4 separate regions of the Homo sapiens genome follow, and regions 1, 2 and 4 are each reported to be linked to region 3. Evidence: microRNA targets listed by miRTarBase, many of them from high-throughput screens and not tested one by one. Region 3 holds a microRNA gene; each other region holds the end of a gene's coding sequence.

The links. The annotated mature microRNA hsa-miR-5189-3p reads UGCCAACCGUCAGAGCCCAGA and lies in region 3 at 2,247-2,267, opposite strand. An mRNA with a match to its seed (bases 2 to 7 or 8) in the 3' UTR can be bound and repressed. Matches are read on the target gene's strand: a 7mer-m8 pairs with bases 2 to 8, a 7mer-A1 pairs with bases 2 to 7 and ends in A, and an 8mer does both.
Region 1: the mRNA of SSX2IP is a reported target of hsa-miR-5189-3p. Seed matches in the 3' UTR shown: 7mer-A1 at 922-928.
Region 2: the mRNA of KMT2A is a reported target of hsa-miR-5189-3p. Seed matches in the 3' UTR shown: 7mer-m8 at 2,452-2,458.
Region 4: miRTarBase lists NOM1 as a target of hsa-miR-5189-3p. Seed matches in the 3' UTR shown: 7mer-A1 at 1,526-1,532.

Annotation. Positions count from the first base shown.
Region 1 is chr1:84,644,870-84,648,003 of GRCh38, reverse strand. SSX2IP (SSX family member 2 interacting protein) reads left to right here. Exons shown (of 14, transcript NM_001166293.2): 14 at 397-3,134. The coding sequence ends at 571. Among named protein-coding and RNA genes, the nearest start is that of LINC01555, 11 kb to the right of the region's middle.
Region 2 is chr11:118,521,862-118,524,995 of GRCh38, reverse strand. KMT2A (lysine methyltransferase 2A) reads right to left here. Exons shown (of 36, transcript NM_001197104.2): 36 at 1-3,099. The coding sequence ends at 2,824. The region is part of intron 1 of TTC36-AS1 (TTC36 and KMT2A antisense RNA 1); the gene reads left to right. Among named protein-coding and RNA genes, the nearest start is that of TTC36, 4.0 kb to the left of the region's middle.
Region 3 is chr16:88,468,117-88,471,250 of GRCh38, reverse strand. It overlaps MIR5189 (microRNA 5189), which reads right to left and starts at 2,333; the gene lies at 2,220-2,333. The region is part of intron 1 of ZFPM1 (zinc finger protein, FOG family member 1); the gene reads right to left.
Region 4 is chr7:156,969,081-156,972,214 of GRCh38, forward strand. NOM1 (nucleolar protein with MIF4G domain 1) reads left to right here. Exons shown (of 11, transcript NM_138400.2): 10 at 7-116; 11 at 449-3,134. The coding sequence ends at 623. Among named protein-coding and RNA genes, the nearest start is that of NOM1, 21 kb to the left of the region's middle.

The DNA.
Region 1 (3,134 bases), not on the chromosome of region 3:
GGGATTCTGATGACCGAATTACTATAAGTATTGGTAAATAAATTTATAGTAATTTGGTCATCAGAATCCCTTGTACAAATGATTAAACTAGGCATGCACTACTACTCCCAGCTAATTTTTTGTAGAGACAGGGTTTCACCATGTTACTCAGGCTAGTCCTGAATTCCTGGGCTCAAGCAGTTCGGCTGCCTCAGCCTCCCAAAGTGCTAGGATTACAAGTGTGAGCTACTGCTCCCAGCCGTTTTTTTTTTCCAAGTAAAATTTTAAATTATATTTTTGGCCTAGATTTTTAGAATTAAAAGGAACTTATTTTTTTTGAAGAGTGCCACATTATGAGGTTAAAGTACAAAAGAAGGAGAGGATAGTCACTAAGATCTGCCTTTCTTTTCCCAACAGTTCAATCAATGTACTGAATATAACTGCTGAAGAAATTAAACCAAATCAGGTTGGAGGAGAATGTACAAATCAAAAATGGAGTGTGGCATCAAGACCTGGATCACAGGAAGGTTGCTATAGTGGATGCTCCTTGAGCTACACAAATTCTCATGTAGAAAAAGATGACTTACCTTAGACATGTGGACTGGAATTTTTTTCATTAATGTGTTCATCAAGTTTCACATCTAAGTTGAAACAGGGTGTGTCATAAAGTCAGTTATCTCTAATAACTTAAGATGGTCTGAGTTGTTTGTTTGGACTTCCCTGTCTTCCCCCAAAGAGTTGAAATCTTAAATCTATTTAAAAGGATATAAAAGCTTTGGATATGTATTTTTAGTAACAGAAGCATCTGGTTCTGTGAATAAAGGAATGTATAGATGTTTGGATGGAAACAAAAGCACTAGACTGAGTTTCCTCTTATAGGTATTAAAAATAGCACTTTTAGGAAACTGATTATTGTAAATGTTTAATTTTGTCTCAAATATAGTTGGCATTGGAAGTTTAGCCTTTACTTGAATGTATACTGTAGATTTTTAACAAAGCGAGTTCTATATTTATTATGTTTAGTGTGGTTTGAAATTACCTCTTTCATATGTTTTAAATAAAGTGAAATTTATGTATGTTTTGTACATAGATACACATGATTATGTTAAGAGGCTTTAAGATTTAAAAGTTTCACACAACCATAAGTATAGTATTTCATGCCAGTAAAATTTTTTTAGTGGTATTCTGTTTACAGATGTATTAGGACCATTGATGCATTACATTTAAGAATTCTCTTTAATACATCTGGGCAATAAATATTGAAAGGTATTCCATGAAGCTGAGTTCTTTAGATAATCAACACTACTAACATTACATTTTTGAGATTTTTATGACATTAGATTTTTATTTTGTATATGTAGAATATTATAATTTTTAAAAGGACTATTGATGATAGAAGAATAGGGGCAAGACGACAAAAGTACCTTTGAATAAAACAATTTAAGAAATTGGTTTAAGATATTGGATGATAGAAGATATTTAAGATATCTAGATGGTGATATTTTCCTTACAAGATGGGTACCAGTATAGTAATATCTGTATACTAACTAGGGCTTTGTATTGTCAATAATTTTTTAATAATTTTTTAATGAGGTATTTACCACTGAAGAAATATGATAATATAAAACCATCAAATTTTATAATTGAGATGATACTCTGGAAAAACATGTCATTTCATTTTCAGAAAACTCTTAAGCTCTCTTCAGTCTCTGTAATGTTTCTGATTGCATGTTTCTTCATGAAAAGTATGTTGTTGTTTTGATAGTAATAATAATAAATGTAGGCTCAGCTCTTTCCCAGGATTTTCATCAAAAAGCTTTAAGTGCCTAACCCTGCTTGTCTCTGTACATAGAAGCCTGCACAGATCCAACCCTTGCTAGGTATCATAGTTTAGGCCCATTTACCTTCCCCTGTACTGGCAGTTCAGCCGCTTACATGCACTCACCCTGTTTGTGGCTATTTTAAATTCATATTATTAAAAAACAAAAAAAACCCACCTATTTGTGTTGTCCATTCACTATACGTAACTATGTAACTCTTTGGAGTTGCATAGCAGCAGCCATTTTTTCAGGGCTGATAGGATATCATTAAGAGTGTCTTATGAGACATTAGTGGATATACTCATAGTAACCATATTTATAGTTTTAAAGAGCTAGCTCTTGAGCATTAGTCACTACCTTCAGCTTGATGCATGGTCACTTCTTTACTATTTAAAATACTACACATTGTACAAAATATCGAAGACACTACCATATGCTAAAGGAAGAAATCTAGCTGGGATATAGGATTTTTGTTGTTTTTGTTTTTGTTTGTTTTGCTATTTAGCAATAACATGGTCAAAAAGGCAATCAGAAATTTTAAATACAGTTAATGGATACATTTGGCAACAATTTTCCCCCGAGGGTTTTCCATGGTGTACTTTGCAAGAAATAAGCACTCTAATTTTTAAAGTAAATCTCTTATTTTAGCAAATATTATATTTCATGACAATGGAGTTCTAGAAAGCAGCATCTGTTTTTTGTTGCGTGTTTCCATTTTAAAGTGAGTTGAGTTCTCAAATTGGAAAGAAAGATTCCTTGAGACGTACTTTTAAAATCTAAAGTGTGAAAGAAACAGCAGAGTAAAAGCCAGACTCATTGCACCTTCAATGTCTGCATAGATCCAGAAGTTGTACATTTTACCTAACAACATCACTTTTGTTGAACATTCCAACTCCAGAATGATCCCCAATCACCCTAATCTCAGAATGCTGGAATGATGTCTGTTGGAAAACCCAGGACTCCACACACAAAACTCCTGGGATTTTGTTTCCCATCTCTTTCTAGGTGTTTGCAATGTACAAATAATACAGCTGTGCTAATCTCACATTTAGCCATGATAGATGATGGTTCTAGAGTGTACTTCCATTTGTAAGTCCTCCTGATAAGTGCTTTCTTGTTTATCACTATGTAAATCTGAAATATTTTGTACTTCATTTGTTTTTATCCATTCTGAATTTTCAAAGCATAAAAATGTCAAAGAAAAATTGAGATAAACATTTTGTTCACCATTAAATGTTTGCATCTGCAGTCTATGATGAGAAACAATGAAATTATGACTAAAATTTAACAAATAGTATTTTCTTATAGAAGCAATGTATTAAATGATTAGATACA
Region 2 (3,134 bases), not on the chromosome of region 3:
CATTTTTGTGGTTGACAATTAGGGGGTGGAAAGGCAAGGCAAACCATCTGCAGCTGGCAGGAGAAGGAAGCTGTGGGTTCCTCCCCTGTCCTCAGGGTTTAGGGTTGGTAGAGAGTGAGGAGGGGCTCACAGTACAGCATGGCCTAGCAGGGCAGTAACTAGGTCTATTTAGCTGAGTTCCCCCCACCCCCTGACTGGCCTTTGGGTCTTTCTCAAGGTGAATTCAGGACCCATCAGTGCATTAATCATTTCAGTAACAAATGCAGCTTAAGGTTTTTTTTTTTTCTTTAAAAAAAATAGGAATACAAGGATTTACAAAAAAACCTCACACAGTGCAATAATAAAGGAAAGCAGACACTAGTGGAACCCCTAGGGCCACTGCATCTTGTTCATGGGCAAAAGGAGGAAGGGAGGTGAGGTCTGGGTAGAGTGCTTTTCCCAGTCCCCTGCTGGCACTTCTCCATGATGACAAGGAAGTCTCTGCCATCCTGGCCACAGTGCTGGGCTCCCTGCATGACAGTGAAAACAGTGACAATGTTCCAGCAAAGCCACCAGACAAAGTTCTTAAGGTCACAGGAGAGAAGGGAGCCCAGGATGGAAGGCACAGCAGAGCCATGAGTCCTGGGGCAGAGAGTGCTGGGCTGAGTCGTATTGCTTTGCTAGACTTCCATAGGAATGGGCTTCTTGCGGCGAGAAAAGGGTGCCCCACCCTCTACTTGGACTACACTACTCTGAAACCTTGTGGCAGAGGCAGAGAAAAATCTGCTTTATCGTGAGTGGTCAGACTGTGCTTCAGTTTCAACAGGCTGCCCCAAAAGAGGGCACAAGGTGATCAATGGGTTCTCTGCAGATATGAGGACTTGGTGGGCAGAGGGAAAGGAAAGAGTGGCCTATGAGGCAGATGGTGATGCAAAAATGTCAAGTTGCCATTCAACTTGTTGTTTGCTAACTCTGAAGTAAGAAAGATGAGGGAAATGTAAAGATTGCCGTCTCCCACCACTCTGGAAGTTGCGCCGGAAAGGAGAGAGGCGGGAAAGAAGAGAATCTGTTGTATCAAGATATTACTGTAGCCTTTTGAGGAGCTTCAATAGGGGAAGGAGGGGAGTGGCCCAATGGAGTTGGGTGACCTTCCTTCTCCATTTATTGTCAAAGAGCAAACCCAGGAAACATTTATGTCAACAGGGCACAAACAAGCTACACATTAAACAACAAAAAGTACACCTTCCAGGGGGAAGTTGGGCAGGAAAAACCAGACTTTGTGTGTACAGCTGAATATTTTCTCTAACTTCATCCTATGAAAATAAAAAATTATTAAAAACCGATCTTCTTTTAAATTAGGATAATACCGCGGTTTAAAAAATAGCCTTGTCATAAGTGCTTCTCCCTATGAAGTGCTTCTCATAGAAAAATATACAAAATATATTTACATTTATAAAACCTTAAATAGTAAACTGTAAACAGAACAGAGTAAAATCCAATGACTTAATTTAACAGGTTCAGGACTCTGTCTTGGGGAAAGGAAGAGAAGAAACATTTGATGCTGTTTTGACCACATCCTAAGGAGTAATCAGGGCAGTAGTGTCATTGAATTTACTTTAGCTGTGGGTTGCACGCAGGTGGCAGAGTTCCCTCAACATAAGGTGGTCTAGTCCCCAAGTTGTGGGCCTTGAAATCTGATTAGTGTTCTGCCTTCAACTGGACACTGACCGTTTAAAAATTAAGTCTTCCTATGTCTTAACAAGGGGAAAATAAAGTAACCATGTCTTAGGAATGGGACCCAAGGGTCATCCTGGCTGTGATACTCTCGTTGTTGCATGATTTAAATCCTATTTAAATAATCTTTTTCCTCTCCTACAAAATCATGCTACATATGTTTCTTTAAAACTCTCCATGGAGCTTTATGAAAATGTTTCCAAATTCTGTCTGGTTATGACCAATGGCTCCTGTCCACTTCCCCACCTGGAGTGCTTACAGGCTCAGGGAACTTTTTGCAGGCACATCCTATGCCCAGCAGGGAGTGTCCTTGAGCAGGCAGTCAGTCTCCCCTACAACCCGAAAGAAGCATGGGAAAGCAGTGGCATGAAGACAGGGGAAAGGAAGAAAAGGGAGTGAAGAGGGAATGGGAGAGGGAAGCCGCTCCTACTGTCAAGAAAGGTAATTGGCTGAGATAAGGCTCCTGGGGGCAACACTCCCACTCAAAGCCTGCAGGCTCAATGTTTGGTAATTAATTGGCACAACCCCATGACAGCCTTTTGACACCGGAGGTGCTAGGAATCCTGTCTCCCAACCAGAAGTGAACTCTCGAGTGGGAGGATAGTAGGGAAAACCACCAGACCTCTGTTTGTTCGACAGACGCTGTAGGTGGGGCCTGGCTGGCAAACTGTCAGGAATCTAACCAACCCTCCATTTGGGGCTTTGCCTGACCCACTCACTTACAGTGCTTGGGAAAGGGCCAACCTGAGGATGGCAACTTATTTCTGTGGAGAAATTCAGGCCCAATCTCCCAACATAACCAACCCTCTATAATAGGCTCCTTCCAGGCAAGTCTGCTAGGGACCCCATTCCCACTTTCTAACAGTAAACAATTGGAGGGGCCCCAGGAGAAAGCCGATCATGGATCTTTTCTTCGAGACCTCAACTCTGTCTCTGGGACTATGATCACATGTCTGATGTGAGTATAGGACATAAGAGAGCTCAGCCATCACAGAGGCCCCTCAGCTGTGCCACGCAATCCGGGAGCTCCCAGCTGCTGGAAAAGGCCTTCAGCGTTGCTTTGGATGGCCCCGCCTCCTTGCACTCCAACACTGGGGGAGAAGAGCAGCTTTAGTTTAGGAACTTCCGGCATTTCTTGGCGCCACAGTTGCAGGGCAGCTTGTTGCTGGCATCCTCAATGGGGAACTTATAGTCGTAAGTGAGTTCCTCTCCTCGGTAGATCTTACGCATGGCAAAGATGACAATGTGCTTCTGCCCATCAATATTGATGACCCGAGAATAGCAGTTAGGCTCACACGAGTGATTGATGAAGCGTGCAGCATTTCCATGCATGGTGGCATCCACTACCTCTGAGTCATCAATTCGGAACATATAGCAACCAATGCCCTGCACATGCAGAAGAAGGGAGAAGAACTTGTCAT
Region 3 (3,134 bases):
GAGGGTCAGCTGGTTGGGAGCTCAGGGAGTCCGGCTCTTGTCTGAATTCTCAGTGCCCATCGCGGTCAGGGCGGAGTAAGTGGAGAGGAAAAGTCTGGTCTATCTATCATGGCTGCAGGGGAGCTGGGCTTTCCTCCTCCCGGCCCCCTCGCTCCTTCAGAAGGCAGCCTCTGGGCAGCCCAGTATGTAGTTGGCAAGGGCACACGGGGAAGGGAATGCCTGTCGCGGAGGCTGGACCCCACCGGGTGAGGTACTGGCATCTGAGCTGGGCCCTGGGTCAGTGCGTCACGCTGCGTCTCCCGCCCCTTCCTGGACGACCTCATCCCCTGCTCGGAGCTCCCACTGTGCGCTCGGCGAGGATGTGTTTCCCTATGCCACATCCTCACCTGTCACTCAGCGTCACCACCCGGCCCTCCACACCGTGCCACATCCTCACCTGTCACTCAGCGTCACCACCCGGCCCTCCACACCGTGCCACATCCTCACGTGTCACTCAGCGTCACCACCCGGCCCTCCACACCGTGCCACATCCTCACCTGTCACTCAGCGTCACCACCCGGCCCTCCACACCGTGCCACATCCTCACCTGTCACTCAGCGTCACCACCCGGCCCTCCACACCGTGCCACATCCTCACCTGTCACTCAGCGTCACCACCCGGCCCTCCACACCGTGCCACATCCTCACCTGTCACTCAGCGTCACCACCCGGCCCTCCACACCGTGCCACATCCTCACCTGTCACTGAGTGTCACCACCCGGCCCTCCACACCACCAGTCCCCCAACAACAGCCTCCCCAGTGGTTCTGCCACAGAGCACGTCAGACCCCTGTGTTCACTCTCCCTCGTTAGGCTGGGGTTCCATGAGGTCACCTGGGGTCCCTGGACCATGCCCAGCACACAGCAGGCACTCAGTACAGGTTTGGAGAGTACAGGGGACACCCGTGGGCATCCAGAGGCTGCCCGCCCCAACCCGTCCAGCAGCCCTGTCCCCAGGACAGGTGGGGTGGCCCTGACAGCAAGGACCCCGCAGGAGTGAGTCACAGCCCCAGCACAGGGACAAGGACCGTGGCTCTCCACAGGCGATGCTCCTACACGGGAGGGGCCTTTGCCCAGGACAATGCTGGCTCTGGAGGCCCTGGCTTTTTCTCCGTTTCCTTTTTCCTTCTGCTTGCTTTGCCTCTGGGGACACAGCCAGGCACAGGGAGCAGATCCAGAAATCAGCTGGGGAGTATTTATGGAGCACCTACTGTATGCCCCAAGCTGTCCTGGGAGAGGACAGAGCTGCCTGCATGTGTGGAGACCCCTCTGCAGACTGGGAGGGCTGCGTGGGGAGATCCTCTGGGCTGGGCACGCACCTCTGACCCTCACCACGTGAGAGGCACTGCACCCCACGTTAGGGGGTGGGGCCCTGGCCAAGGTGATGTCTGGTTCTGGTCGGACGGCCCCTCCCTACTTCCTCTCCTTAGATCTCAGCCCAGACTCTTTCTCTCCTCGCCCCGCCACTATTTTCCACTTACACATTTTTGACAAACACCCACACCTGTGGCTGATTTTCAGGTGCCGTGGGAGCTGACAGGGCCTCCAGCCAGGTCTCAGGCCGGCGGAGCCTGCCTCATCCTGGTCTTGCCAGCAAGACCCACTGTGCAGTGTGGGTGGATGCAGAACACAGGTGCATGCCCCCTAAGGTGTCCTAAGCCCCCTGTAGACATGGTCTCCTGGCACATGAATTTCTGACAATGGGAAATCTGGAAGACCCCAGGTTTCCAGGCTATGCCACAGCCACAGACAGGAGGACCCCCAGAGAACCTGCCACCTCAGCCTCATGGTGTGGAAGGGGAAACTGAGGCCCAGGCCGGCAAGGGGCTTGCTGAAGAGCCCAGAAACCATCCTGGGAGGCAGACCTACTAGACCGCCTTCCGGTTTTACAGATGGGGAGGCTGAGGGTGGGCAAAGGGGTTGGGACTGTCATTCATTAAGATGGTGCCACGTCCCTGGCCCGGCCGGCACTTCAGAAGCTTGGCAGAATGAGGTTCCGGATGGAAGTCAGCGCGGGGAGAGGGTGGAGCGGTGGGGGGCAGCCTGCAGGAGGGTCTGGAGTGGGCCCAGACATGGGGGTGGGAGGCTGGCTGGCCCCAGGGCCGTCCCTGCCGGGTTGTGAAACTCGCTGTTCCCATCTGGGAGTGGCTGCTGGCTGCACTCCTCTCGGGAACTCCTGGGTCCTGGTCCCCAACTGAGGCCACGTGGGTCTGGGCTCTGACGGTTGGCAGGTCATCCAGAGGCCAGCCTGTCCATCCGCCTGTGCCCAGACAGCGAGGCCCCTAAAAGGCGGGCCCTTCCAGAGCCGGTGGTGGTGGTGGCAGAGGTCTCCCGTCCTGGGGCAGGGTCCAGGATGGGAACTACTCCCCCAGGTCAAGGGCAGCCCCTGGAGGAGGCCCTGCCCCCACACAGCAGCTCAGCCAATCCCTGGGCCTCACCCCTGCTCATTTGCATACCCCATTTCCATTGGCTGCCAACAGGCTGGTTAGGACAGTGGTGCCCTGGCCATGGGGGTGGGGCTCTGGGGGGCGGGGCCCTGGGGGTATCAGATTCTGGGTGACTGGTCCCAGCCCCAAGTCTAGGGTCAGAAAGCTGCATGGGGCTGGTGGGGGGCTTCAGTTACAGTGCAGGCTCTCCCCTTTCCTCGAAGGCTCCCTGACATCCATTCAGGGATGACTCTGAGTGGGAAAGATACTGGTCCAAGGTCGTACAGCCAAGAGGCCGGCACAGCTGGGACCTGGCCCCAAGTCCCAACCCCTCTCCAAGGCCGGCCTCTTTTCTCCTGTGGGGGCCTGTTGAGAGCGACTTCTTATTTTTGGCTGCCTTGTTTCAGGGAGGGCTATTTGGGGGCTTTCTTTGCAAAATGATGATGATGATGACTTTCAGAGCACCCCGAGTGCTCAGCTCTCCCTCTAGATCTGGTGGCTCTGTGCGCCGCAGGCAGTGGGCTCGCGGGTGCGTCGGGACGGTGGGCTCGCGGGTGCTTGAGGGGCGGTGGGCTCGCGGGTGCTTGAGGGGCGGTGGGCTCGCGGGTGCGTCAGGGCCTGTGGGCTCGCGGGTGGGTCAGGGGCAGTGGGCTCGCGGGTGCGTGAGGGGC
Region 4 (3,134 bases), not on the chromosome of region 3:
CATTAGGTAGTTGAATTCAGTGAATTGGACAAACCCAGAGTCCGTTTTTTACGAAAAGTATTAAGTATCCTATTAATGGAAACAGAAGTTGAAGACCTCAGTTTAATTTTCACAAGGTATGTGCCCCACCCTTTCCGACGAGACATGGAAGAGAAATGAAGAGATTGTTTTCACTTGTGTTGATTTACAAACACAAGGTTGTACTATACGTGTAGCTTAATCTTTTCGGTTTTATTTTTAAGCTGGTATGCATTAGATCTGGGGAATAGAAACTTGTCTGCTAGCAAACTAACAATGATTGTTAATAATAAAATATGTTAAGAAGTTCTTAATTGAGAATTTTATTTTTAAAAGAAACTGGTTATGTCTCACTATGCGAGATACCCAGGATTGAGATCTAGGAGAGGCCAGCTCAGCCCTGACATGTGTTTATACGATTCCTTTCCAGAGTATCTGACAACCCAAAGCTGGGGGTGTTACGTGAGGGTTTGAAGCTTTTCATCAGCCACTTCTTGCTAAAGAACGCACAGGCCCACAGAAGCGCCGACGAAGCCAACGTGCTGAGAGAGAAAGCTGACCTTGCAACGAAGTGTCTGCAAGGAAAAGCTTCCCTGAGAATGTAGTCAGGGAAGGAAGGAGGGCAGGTGGCCCTTTGACTGTAAAATGTCCTTGGTAAACCCAAAGGCTTATTCTGTTGCCTGCGTGTGAATGTTTGGTAGAGCTATATCATTGTCTGTTAATGTATTATATTTTGAGATTTTTTTTGATCTAAGGTTTTATTGTTTGTATTTCAAGCCATTTTCAAATAACTATCTTGGGGGTGAGAGGAGAAGGAGGGAGGGAAAAGGGGTCAGGCACACTGGACAGGGTTCTCTAAGCAGTGAGGCTGGTGTGTATGATTGTCTTAAAATTTTTTAATAGATATGGCCGAGCGTGATGGCTCACCCCTGTAATCCCAGCACTTTGTGAGGCCAAGGTGGGCGGATCACTTGAGGCCAGGAATTTGAAACCAGCCTGGGCAAAACCCTGTCTCTACTAAAAATATAAAAATTAGCCAGGCATGATGGCACATGCTGGTAATAGCAGCTACTGAGGTGGCTGAGGCACAAGAATTGCTTGGACCCTGGAGGTAGAGGCTGCAGTGAGCCAAGATTGTACCACTGTACTCCAGCCTGGGCTGGACAGTGAGACTTTTGACAGTGAGACTGTCAAAAAAAAAAAAAAAATTAATAGATAAAACAGGCCACTAGAGGGTGCAGTTATAAAGAAATTGATGAGGTTTTTACCTTTTTAAAATATTGGTTAGAAGTTCAAAAACCATCCCTTAAAGGTGATTGTTTTTTTGAGACAGAGTCTTGCTCTGTCACCCAGAGTGGAGTGCAGTGTCCTGTAATCTCAGCTCACTGCAACCTCTACCTCCCGGGTTCAAGCGATTCTCCTGCCTCAGCCTCTTTAGCTGGGACTACAGGCGCACGCCACCACGCCCGGCTAATTTTTGTATTTTAGTAGAGATGGGTTTCACCATGTTGGCAAGGCTGGTCTTGAACTCCTGACCTCAGGTGATACACCCATCTCGGCCTCCCAAAGTGCTGGGATTACAGGCTTGAGCCACCACGCCCAGCTTAAATGTGATTCTTGATACTGTTTTAAGTATTTAGGTTGCAATTAACTTTGGCAAAGTCAGTCGACATAAGCCCTGTGGATATGGCCTTATGTACACTGTAATGCAGACAGGTGCTTTTCATCATTCATGTAACATTCTCACACAGTTGAGGATATTCATCTCCTCACCAATTCCAGATTGTAAATGTACCATCTTAAACAACTCTGAGGTCACCAAACAGTAGTTATTTGACTGTTAATAGGTGCTACTTGCTTGCAAGGATTTGGAGATGTAAACATGAAGAAAATATAGTTACTGCCTGCAAAGAATTAACATCCGTCTAGTGGGAGAAACAAACACACCCCACTCACTAAGTATGGAAAACTGATTCTGGGAGGAAGCAGAAATGTCCCTAGATAACAGCATGTATTGCAGATACCCAAATGTTTATTGTTTTCTCAGCCCTTCAATTTTGCTTTTCTCTCTCAAATGCTACAGACTCAATTTAAATCTTACCTTTGATTGTTGAAAAAAGTCACTAAGATGTGAATACAGAATAGACATTGAGAGGTTATATATGTCCAAAACTCATCTGTCCAGCAGTCACCGTCCTCTTCAGAGTGGTCACGTTGGGCAGATGGGCACAGGTGCTGGTGATGCCTCTCCTGGGCAAAACGCCCCATTTGTGGCACTTTCAGATACTATTTATTTACTTTTTAAGAGAGAGACAGGCTCACTCTGTCACCCAGGCCAGAGTGCAGTGGCACGATCATAGTTACCGCAGCATCAAATTCCTGGACTGAAGCGGTCCTTTTGCCTCAGCCTCGCGGATAGCTAGGACCACAAGCAGTAGAGACAAGATCTCCGTATGTTATACAGGCTGGCCTCAAGTGATCCTCTTACCTTGGCCTCCCAAACACCGGGATTATAGGCGTGAGCCCCCGTGCCTGGCCTCAAATTTTATTTTAGCTCGACCCTATGGCAGTTTGTGTTTGGAAATCGTGATGTGAAGTCATCAGTATCTGTGCATATCCCTAAACTAATGGTTTAAGCTTTGAAGCATGCGCAAGCAACATGAACAACTGAATACAGAAAGTAACTGAAAGCAGCACAGAGACTGTGTCGTCCCTACAGACTTCTAACCCTGCATTCAGCAACATCATTCGACCCGAAGCCAGATTCAAACCCTATGTCTTCTAGCAGGTTCTGAATTTAGAGGACAAATAAGGTGACAGGTACTAAGAGAAGAGTGAATTAAGTGAAAATCTTCCCTTTGTTAAGGAGCTTTTTAACAAGAGTGTCTTTGCTGGGTGGTGATTGGGATGTAACAGATCAGTTCTACTGGACTTGTAGCTTGATAGTGAAATAAGGAGCTTGGGCTAAGGTATAAATCAACACACTGCTTCCTTCCTCCAGAAGGTCTTACTGTGAAGGAAAAAATGTCAGTTGAACTAAATTGTGCTTCACGCCTCGGTAGATTTGCATTCTGATGCAAGCCCCCAACCTCACGGACCAAGAGGATCCCTGGCTG